Linked DNA regions of Homo sapiens. The protein of the gene in region 3 interacts with the protein of the main gene of each other region in a pairwise test. Each region holds a gene or a part of one and is shown on either strand. Other genes may lie near its edges. The genes, in order: MLLT10, SPMIP6 and RBPMS.

Region 1 (3,655 bases), on a different chromosome or scaffold from region 3:
ATTTATTTTGTATCTAAGGAAAATAGGCTTTCAGTTTTATTTGTATTATAAGTGAGTAATAATTGGTCACCAGTTATATGAAGATGTAGAAAAGGAACTATAGGTTGTTTTTGAAGGGCATAAAGAATCCTGTTAAGTGATCAACTTGAATTTAACTTTCTTAGTCCATAATATAATGGTAAAATTTACTTAAATGTCTAATGATCTCGTTATTGATTTAAAGCGATGGTATTCAATATAGATTTTTTTTTCTTATTTAAATCAGTCTTAGGAATAGCAAGACTAGATATTTAAGTGGTTTTGATACGGGCTTCAGCATAAGCTTTTTAATAAGCCTTTAATCTTACACATAATGTAATTTAATAGGGTAAATAGGTTTCTTTTTGTCTTTTATTATTCTAGCTCCTACTACTGATTCCTTGAACAGCAGTAAGAGCCCTCATATAGGAAACAGCTTTTTACCTGATAATTCTCTTCCTGTATTAAATCAGGTAATTTTTGTATGGTTATTTTCATCTATGTTGATTTACTTGTGAATAATAGTATATTAAATGGTTTAAAATTATTTTAAACAGTTTTGCAGTGTTCTTTAAACTTAGTTTCTCTTCTTTCTTACGCTGGGACTTAATGTCCAGTGGACTTAGTTTCTCTTCTTTCTTACGCTAGGACTTAACCTCCAGTGGACAAAGTACCAGCAGCTCATCAGCTCTTTCTACCCCACCTCCTGCTGGGCAGAGTCCGGCTCAACAAGGCTCAGGAGTGAGTGGAGTTCAGCAGGTCAATGGCGTGACAGTGGGGGCACTAGCTAGTGGAATGCAGCCTGTAACTTCCACCATTCCTGCCGTGTCTGCAGTGGGTGGAATAATTGGAGCTTTGCCAGGTAACCAACTGGCAATTAATGGCATTGTAGGAGCTTTAAATGGGGTTATGCAGACTCCTGTCACAATGTCCCAGAACCCTACCCCTCTCACCCACACAACCGTACCACCTAATGCAACACATCCAATGCCAGCTACACTGACTAACAGGTAAGAAACTTAAGTATGTTTTGGGTTTTTTAGTATAACAGAGTACCGGTGTTGTCTATGCCTTAGATTGGGGCTTTCAATGTGTTCCTTTGTAGATACACCTTAAGAAGTCTGCCAAAAATTTTAAGTATATTATACAGAGTACATTTATTTTTGAAACTTAAGTAATTTAGATTAAAATTAAGTTACTTTTAGTAACAGCATTATGTTCTGTGCTGAAAATTAGTCTTAATCTGTGATGTCTGTTTTTAAATACTAGTTTTTCTTATTTCTTTGTATACTGTATCATAAATTCTGAAGAAAGATATCGTAGTGGAGATAACATGAATATTAGTTTCCTAAAATTTATGTAATATTTTTAATGTTCTAATCAAAGATTTTGATATAGGATAAAGGTCATTTATCTGAATTCCCAGGAAGTGAGACTCACTGGTTTCATTGTACTGGAACTGCATTTGAATGTTTGTTCAAAACTAGGGGACTAAAGCTATGTTGTTATTAAGCATACTTTTGGGGGAATAAATACTTTTAAATGGATTTGCAGTGGGTACTAGAAAGCTATTTCCTGTAGCTCTCTTCCTTGGTGTTTAGTTTTACCATTGGGACCATTAGAAAAGGATAGGTCAAATCAGTGGTATGTTTGGATTCTTTGTTTCAAATATGTGTTTACTTAGTGTGAGTTAAATTATCCTTGAATAATTAAAGATAAATTATTACATACGCTTGTTAGAAACACATGTAAATTTCTATTCCATAAAATGAGTTAGGGCCTATTTGTTTTATAATAAAAACATTTCTTGACAATGTGAATTCTTGTTTAGCTGTACACATGGATGTATATAAACATACATATATATAGAAATTGTACATAACTGTTTTCAGAGTGTTTGGATTCAGAATTGTACTTAAGTTATTAAACATCAAATTGAAAAGTTGTCTTTCATTTTTAGACTTCTAAAAATGCATTAGAGGTGTGTAGTAAAAAGTAAGAATTGTAATCATTTTTCAGTGCCTCAGGACTAGGATTACTTTCTGACCAGCAACGACAAATACTTATTCATCAACAGCAGTTTCAGCAGTTGTTAAATTCTCAACAGCTCACACCAGTAAGTTCTTTCTTTTGATAATATCTTATTAGGAGCATGTGTTCTAAGCTGTAATATTCACTGTGGGTACAGATTTCTCCTTTGTGAAATAACATTATTGAATGCATAATCAAAAAAGTTTTTCTTGCCATGTGGTACAGGCTGTGATACCTGCAGTGATGTCACATTCATTCCTGAACTTAAAAGTGACAGGGCACGTGGCATGGTGCTGCCATAGGCTCTGGTAACACAGTGCTGAGATGTGGTGCGTGTTTTCCCGGAGCTTCATTTTGATACGGGAGATGGATGGACACGATGCACGCTTTTTGGTTGTGATAAATACTGAGAAGAACAAAGAAGTGGAATAAGTGGGGAAGAGCATAGGGAACCGAGGACCATTTTAGATAGGATGGCCCCGCCTCTGCAAGGGGGGTGACTTTTGAGCACAGACCGATGTGAGAGTTCAGGGAGTGTGCCTTTGTGACTTGAGGGAACGCAGAGAGAAAGCACGTTGGAGGTAAAGGGGCAGCTGCTGTCAAAGGTCTGGACGTACTTGTGTTCGGAAGAGAAGTCAGCAGCCATGTGGTCAGAGGGTGGGAGAGGTCAGAGCCAAGGGGGTGGTCTTAGATGATCGCATACAGCCTTTCTTGGCTGTGGCAAGAAATTTGGATTTTATCTTAAGTATGAATGGAAAGCCACTGGCGAGTTTTTAAAAATCTATTACGGAGGATTTCAAGTGTACCAAAAGTAGAGTGGAGAGCACCCTGAAGACCTATGTACGCCTCATTCCATTCTCTCACCCAGTGCTAATAATCTTAGTTTTGTTTATCTCATTTCATTCTCCATTTTTTTCAGGATTAAGAATTGGAAGGTTTTGAACAGAATAGTGAAATAATGATTTACATTTTAAAGGATTAGTTTTGCTGCTATATGGAGAATAGTCTGTGTGTGTTATAGGGTGTGGGGGAGTGAAGACAGAGGCAAAAGTGGAAAAAGGGAGTGATCCAGGCAGGAGACGTAGGTGTTAAAATAGTATGGGCTACGTATTGAAAACTGCCTGGAATTGTGGTATATATATGTATATTTTTGAGAGGGAGTTTTGCTCTGTCGCCCAGGCTGGAGTGCAGTGGCACAATCTGGGCTCCTTGCAACCTCCATCTCCTGGGCTCAAGTGATCCTCCTGCCTCAGCCTCCCGAGTAGCTGGGACTACAGGCATGTCCCACCATGCCTGGCTAATTTTGTATTTTTTGTAGAGACAGGGTTTCACCATGTTGCCCAGGCTGGTCTTGAACTCCTGACCTCAAGTGATCTGCCCTTAGCCTTCCAAAGTGCTGGAATTACAGGTGTGAGCCACTGTGCCCAGCCAAGATGTTTTGAAGACAGAACCAACAAGACTTGTTTGCTGGACATACAAGAGAAAGAAGAATTCTGAATGGTTGGTTAGTGACTTTTACTGAGATGTGGGAGAACAGAACCCAACCAATTTTGGAGAGAAAAATAGGTGTCATGGACACACTAAGCTTGAAATCTCTTTAGATGTA
Region 2 (3,755 bases), on a different chromosome or scaffold from region 3:
TGGGCAGTGTAGACCTGCCACCGTGTGAAGAAAAATGAAAGCACAGATAGCCTAAGACTGCACAGGCCTGTGCCCACATACCTTATAGCACAGGCCCAGGTGGATCATCTCATGCTAACACCCCACATGTGCTGGTGGATCCACTCCCATGGATCCACTCACATGCTGCAGGCATGCAGTAGACTCACCCACAGCCCACTCTCTGGACACCAATCCTGGGAGGTGGGAGCTGGAATGGGGAGCAATGAGAGGAGGGAGTGAGACTGTTGGCTTAGGAAGGGTGGTACCTCTCCCTGCATCATACCCAGGAACTGCCAGCTCCAAAATATTGGGGTACAGCTCACCACCCCCCACTCCGCCAACCCATTCCTACCTCCTCTAGTGCAGGGACCCAAGTTAGATGATGAGAAAATGCCAAACAAAGGGAGGCAAGGACAGAGAAGGTACCTGCAGGACCCACAAGGCCCATACTGGCCCCCATCTGAACCCACCTCTCCCACCCAGATCAACATCCCCCCAACCCCTGTGCCCCCATCATCTGGACCCCAGAGCCAGCCCTCCCACTACCACCACCACCACCCCGGGGCTCCTTGGCTCACCTTTCTAGAACATGGGTACCTCCTCTTTTTGGGGGCTCATTTAGACTGCTGCCTTTGCTGCTGACTTGCAGTGTGACTCGGGCCCATTGTTCAATCTCTGTGGCCCTGAGACACCAGGGAAAATCTCCCCCCCCACAGGACATACTAGTTCCCTGGCAGGCAAGGGCTTCCAACTGAGGCAGTGCATGTGTGGCAGAGAGAGGCAGGAAGCTGGCAGTGGCAGCTTCTGTGTCTAGGGAGGGGTGTGGCTCCCTCCTTCCCTGTCTGGGAGGTTGGAGGGAAGAATCTAGGCCTTAGCTTGCCCTCCTGCCACCCTTCCCCTTGTAGATACTGCCTTAACACTCCCTCCTCTCTCAGCTGTGGCTGCCACCCAGCCAGGTTTCTCCGTGCTCACTAATTTATTTCCAGGAAGGTGTGTGGAAGACATGAGCCGTGTATAATATTTTTTTTAACATTTTCATTGCAGTATTGACCATCATCCTTGGTTGTGTATCGTGTAACACAAATAATGATATTAAAAGCATCAAACAAGCCAGCCTCAGCTCCCTCCCTGGGGTGTGGGCAAGGGGCAGATGGGCTGGGAAGCAGACAGAACTGGTCCTCTGGGCACACATGTTACTCCACCTCCACCTGTGGGTTCCCAGGCATGCCACTGACCTGCTGCATGACCCTGGGTGAGTCACAACCCCTCCGAACCTCTGTTTCTCTTCAACAGTGAGAAACCTGACCTAGAAGATCTCCAGAGGCCCTCTGAACTCTTAGAAATTGGGCTCTTTTGATAGGCTTGAGGCAGGAGGGGGTCAGGAGCAGGGAGGGAATTAGACCTCCTCACCTTCCCAGGGATGGGGCTGAGCCAGGTGATATCACAATGGGCAGTGCCCATCCTGGAGGGGGCATCAGTGTGGGGTGGGAGCAGGAAGGCTGTTGGGGAAGGAAGCTGAGAGATCCTCTGCAGGAGGGGATTATAGCAGCTAAGGGCACCTGCCAGGCTGGAGGTGTGGCCTGTCTAGGGGAAGGGTGGTCACTGATGTCCAGCAGGAGCCCTTGACAGGTAGAGCCCACCACGGCATCTCCAAGACCACACCATGTTCCTGTTCTCCCGTAAGACCAGGACCCCTATCAGTACCTACAGTGACTCCTACAGGGCTCCCACCTCCATCAAGGAGGTCTATAAGGACCCACCCCTGTGTGCCTGGGAAGCCAACAAGTTTCTGACTCCGGTAAGTGGGAGATTGGTGGGGAGGGGCAGGCCAGAGTGTATGGCCAGTCTGGATGCCTGGCAATGTATGTTTGTAATGATTTGTAGCTTTGTGTATGTGTGTGTTTTATTCATTTACCTAGGCACAGAATTTACAATGGTATGTAAAACAGCACAAAATCCTGCCTTCATGGAATTACATTAGGGTAGGAGGTAGGAACAGGCAGATAATAAGAAATAAACATGAGTTTTATAAATTCTTCAAAAATACTGTAAAGGAAATAAACAGAGTAGTGGAAGTGGAAATGGAAAGGGAGGGCTACTTAGGTCATGGAAAACCCTCTCTCAAGGTGACAATAAACTGAGACTGGAAAGATGAGATAGAACTAGCCACATGAAGACCTGAAAGAATAGAAGAGCTGAAAGTTCCAGACAAGTGATCACAAAGTGCAAAGGCCCTGAGGCTGCCTGTGGAATAGGCCGGAAACTGTCCTATATGCATGCCTTTATCTATATGTATCACAGTTTACTTGTGTCTGTGCTTGAAGATTGGTGGCCAGGTGGGAGGAAATCTGTGAGTCTAACTGTGACTCTGCCTAAGAGAATTTATCTGTGTGTACCATCCAACTTTGCTGAGTATCTTCATCTGTAGGCAACCCAGGATACAAAAGGGAAGGGCCAGCCCTTGCCTTTGAGGAGCTCACAGCAAACAAGTGAACAAAGTAGAGTTGCCCGATGTGGAACATGCACCAGCAGAGGTGGAGAGCCAGAAAGGGGAGAGCGCTGCCCAACCTGAAGGGCAGACCTACTGAGGGATCCAGGAGGAGGAGGCTTCCAGCAGAAGACAGTCAGGAGAAAAGGCAGCCTGTGGGCAGGGACCTACCAGAAACTGAAACTGTTAGAGCAGGAGAGTTTAGTCCTTGGGTGAGAGAGGAGTCTGCAGACCAAGAAGGGCCTCTCTGGCTATGTTGTGGAGCGTGGACATAAGGCTCCAGGTTTTTGAACCTGGGAGGGAGAGTCATGGTTCAATTGTGAGTTAGGCCACTCTGGCCACAGTGTCAGGGAATTGCAGGGGCTGGGGTTGAGGGCAGGAAGGCCAGCGAGGGGTGAACAGATGAGGAAGGAGGATGTAGGTGGGAGATAAGGAGATTGTCACAATGAAAAAAGGAATTCGTTGAATAGGAGAGAATTTTTAAAATAATTTATTTTGTCTAACTCCAAAATAAATATACGCTGAATGTAGAAAATGCAGATAACTCAGAGAAGCACAAAGAAAAAAGGTCTAAAATCCTACTACCTAAAATTACCATTGTTAATATATTATCGTATGCCCTTTCAGGAAGCAAATATTGTTTATTATAAAAATAAATAAAATTTATTACAAAATGGTGTATTTAAGGAATCTTATTGAAAATTTAGGTACTTTATAAAATTTTGCTAGTATAATCATTCTTATACATGTATCTTTGTACACATTTCCAATTATTCCCTTAGGATAAATTACTAGACATGAAATTGTTAGGAGAAAAGATATACACATTTTTAAAACTTTTGCTATATACCTCAAATTGCCATAATAAGTAAGGGTTGTAACAATTTACATTTCCACAAGCAAAATATGAGAGTGCCTGACTCCATACTCAATAGAAGGGAATTTTAAAAAGTAGATGAACAGATTTTGGTCACCATATGGATGGTAAGGTGAGAGATTAGGGTGACCCTTGAGTTTTTGGCTGTGGCAGCTGGAGGAATGCTAATGCTATCAACTGAGGTTTGGAATAACAGATTAGAGATTTGGAGTTCATTTGAGAACAAAAATATTTGAGGATATCCAGGAAAAGATGTTTGGCAAGTAGTTAGATATACTTATCTGAAGCAAAGGAAAGAGGTCTGGGTTATAGATAGAGATCTTGAAGTCATCATCATATAAATGGTGGGTGAAGTCATAGGAAGAGATG
Region 3 (3,655 bases):
AATAAATAGAGTATTAGGTGAGTGCCATTAATGTGCCCGGCATTACACAAAACCACTGCACTGACCCTTTCCCTGCCCACCCATTGTATCAGCAACTTGCTCTTAAGCACATTTAAAAACCTTGGCGGTGGACTCCAGTAAACAGAACACACACATACAACATAGATATATACACGTAATGACGAGAGGAAAAATGTGTTTCGTTGTAATTTCTGGTAGCCATTGAACTGACATGGAAAAATGAGTCCAATCATCATTAAGGGAAAATAGTTTATTTCACAGATCATGAGGGTGGTTTGGGCTTTCTCCACATTGTAGAACCCAAGTTTGTTTTTTTCTGTGTTTCTAGTTTCGAAACGAATTCCTTCTATCAATCAGTGTATTTTAGCTTCTTTTGAGAGTTTCTAATGCTTACCCTGAAATAATTGTGCTGAAATGCCTCTTTGGTTCTAATTGTGTAGAATGAACAGTTCAGGATCTAGGAGTATTTTTGCAGCTTTTTAGGGTTGGAAGTTTTTGAGAACTTTGGCAGAACATGTATTAATACTTCTACTTTGGATAGCATTGAAAACTTTGAGGAAAAATAATTTAGGATTTGGCTAGCCAGTTGTGTAAGAGAGATGATACATTTAACTTTCCGATTTTTAATGTATTATTACATTAAATACATGTGTAATACACGTACAATGTATTATACATGTGTGTTCCCTAAGCAAGTTGTCCTGTAAAGACTAACCAGTTGTCAAAATCTCACTGAGATTTTTAAGGTTTGTTTATATATGTTTAGAGTATCATGTCATTTCTTATATTTTACAATTGATAAAATGATTCCTAGAATTTCTCTAATTGTGCAATCAAACTTTATAAAAATTGATATATAATAGATCCATAATTATTTGTCTTACCTAATCAGTTATAATTGATGAGTTTAAAGTATTTTCAAATATATCAAGACCTTTTCTGTCTTATAGCTTATAACTTATAGCTATAGCTATAAGCTAACTTATAACTTATAGCTATAGCTATAAGCTAACTTATAACTTATAGCTATAGCTATAAGCTAACTTATAACTTATAGCTATAGCTATAAGCTAACTTATAACTTATAGCTATAGCTATAAGCTAACTTATAACTTATAGCTATAGCTATAAGCTAACTTATAACTTATAGCTATAGCTATAAGCTAACTTATAACTTATAGCTATAGCTATAAAGCTAACTTATAGCTTGTAACTTATTTGTTGGTCACTGAATTTTCAAAATAGAAATTTAGATTAAATATGTGATTTGGTTTTTATTTCTACTTTTATCCATGTCATTGAGTACTTTTCAGGCTGATTGTAAAACATCTTTAAAAGGCCTTTTATTATATTGAAGCACTGGTGTTAATTTCTCCTTAAATTGCTTTGAATTGACTTGTACTTATAATAAAACTAAAAAAGCAAAAAACGTGGAAGTGTTGGAATATTGATCAAAAAGATGTGCAGAAATCATACAGTCAGTTCTTCTGAGGTTAATACAAACCTTTACTTTGCATTCCTTCTTTTAAAGTGCTAATTTTGCCAAAATATTGGGGTTGTAAAGAAAATTATTTCTTAAAATTGCTGCAGAGAGGGTAATGTCAGTTTGATGTGGCAACCTCAAATTTTCATTGAGCATTAAAGTCAATCTACATTGTGACTTCAGGAAAGTACAGAATGGTTTTATACAATTTAACCAAGATTGGGGATCTCTGTTATTCCAAGTTCAATCCAATGCAATAAACATATATTTCAGTTGTAGAATAGGATTTGGTGACAACTGATGCTCCATGACCCCTGTCAATATGGCATGCACTTTTGAGTTATTTTTCCAGTAGCGGTTTAAACATTTCCCTGATAAACCCTTGTGTGCATCTGCAGTCTTCTTCATTCCCAGTGGCATTAGTTTTCAGATGGGTAGTTTGGAAGGGGTGGAAGTTCTCTTCTGGAGATGGTTTCACATGATTTTCGTAGGTTCATGTTAATTTTTGCTTTAAGGATAAAAGTGTTCAGTGCTGGTGACAAGGCAATAAAGTGGGTACTTTTGTGCAGAGCAGTGGTGATGTAAATTAGTGTAGCTTTTCAGAAAGGAGTGACACTATCAAAATGTGTTCAGGCCCTTTGATTTAGTACCTTTATTTTTAGAAATTTACCCTAAGAAAACGGTATCATAAAGATTTATATATAGGAATGATTTTTGCAGTGACTTATGACAGTGACAATTCAGAGGCACTCTATCTAACATGGGAAACTGCTAACTAAATCATTGTATAATTCTGGAAGGGGAATATTGTGCAACCACTAAAGGCTCCGTTTTTAAAGAGAAAAATACATGGATTATAAAATATGTATTATATATAAATTCATATTTATTATGTATTATACATATGTGGTTATATACTATTCTCTGTGTTCTGGAGGTTAGAAACCTGAAGTCAAGGTGTTGGCAGGGCCACCGTGCTCTCTAAAGGCTGGAGAGGAGAACCTGTCCTTACCTCTTTGAGCTTCAGTGGCTCCAGACATTCTGAAGACTATATTTTTATTCTCATGTTGTAATATTAAATGAAAAGAACTGATTTTAAAGTTTTATGCTATGTGATGCCAGTTCTCAAATAAATGTATATTCATTCATAAAACCAAACATTAATTGTATCTAATTGGTGGATTACAGATCATTGCTATTTACTTTCTGATGCCTTTCGGTGTTTAAGTTTTCGAAAATGACCATGTGAACAAAAAGAATTAAATGTCTTTTTGCTTTGAGGGTTTCCTTGAATCGTGATATTCACAAAACCGAGGTTGGTCACATTTAGTTTTGCTCACAAGCCTAGCGGTGAGAATCAGGTCTGCCTTGTTCCTCAGACATAGTCTTTCTTAGTACTATTAGTATTTCTCTTACTCATTCCCTTATCTTGATTGTGTTAGTGATCTTCAGCTGCTCTCCTGTTCTGATGCTCTTCTGGAGTCCATCCTTACACCATACTGCTGGGCCCTCCAATGCCCCGAATCCTTCAGTGCTACTTGGTACTCCACAAAGTCAAGTGCGCACATGGCGTTCGGGATTGCCCTCACCTACCTGTATACTGTGATCCCTTTGCTAAGAGGAAGCCTAGGTCTTCCTCTTCTGTTCTCTTGATCTAGTCTGAGCTGCTTTTAAGCCAGGATTCAAGTTTTTCAGCCTACATTTTTGCAAGATCCCCCTCACCTGAATGTCCCATCCCATAGAGATGATTTTTCATTAGAATTTCAGTAAAAGTTACTTTCTGTTATGTCCATTTAACTCCTGGTTATTATTTTTTTCAGCTATTTATTTTGTATGGGTCTATGCCATTTTACAGTATTCCCAATGTTCAACACCTACCCCAGCACCAGGTAAATCTCCTCTGCACACATCCACACTTACATATATACACGTATATAATTCTTTGTAAATATATATGAAATAGCCTTATTGGTGAGGTTGGTGATTATGAGTTTGTACAGGTAATAAGAAGCAGCCACTCGTTTAATATTGAGGATCCCTTCTGTGCTCTGCACTGGGGAATTAGAAAAGGTGTGGATGGATCGGCTGGAAAATTACTTCCATCCCTTTGTCATTAGGAACCTCCATTTGCGAGCACAGGTGAGCCTGCCT

What was found.
Region 1: the proteins of RBPMS (region 3) and MLLT10 interact in binary tests that used the Homo sapiens proteins (3 or more experiments, as listed by UniProt).
Region 2: the proteins of RBPMS (region 3) and SPMIP6 interact in binary tests that used the Homo sapiens proteins (3 or more experiments, as listed by UniProt).

Annotation. Positions count from the first base shown.
Region 1 is NC_000010.11:21,733,102-21,736,756, forward strand, and holds part of MLLT10 (protein AF-10), read left to right. Parts: intron 1-402; coding exon 403-491; intron 492-666; coding exon 667-1,028; intron 1,029-2,037; coding exon 2,038-2,134; intron 2,135-3,655. UniProt on the Homo sapiens protein: Probably involved in transcriptional regulation. In vitro or as fusion protein with KMT2A/MLL1 has transactivation activity. Binds to cruciform DNA.
Region 2 is NC_000009.12:34,395,563-34,399,317, reverse strand, and holds the start of SPMIP6 (sperm microtubule inner protein 6), read left to right. Parts: upstream 1-1,507; 5' UTR 1,508-1,684; coding exon 1,685-1,819; intron 1,820-2,983; exon of another isoform or gene 2,984-3,755. UniProt on the Homo sapiens protein: May participate in intramanchette transport and midpiece formation of the sperm tail. May play a potential role in somatic cell proliferation.
Region 3 is NC_000008.11:30,387,428-30,391,082, forward strand, and holds part of RBPMS (RNA-binding protein with multiple splicing), read left to right. Parts: intron 1-3,655.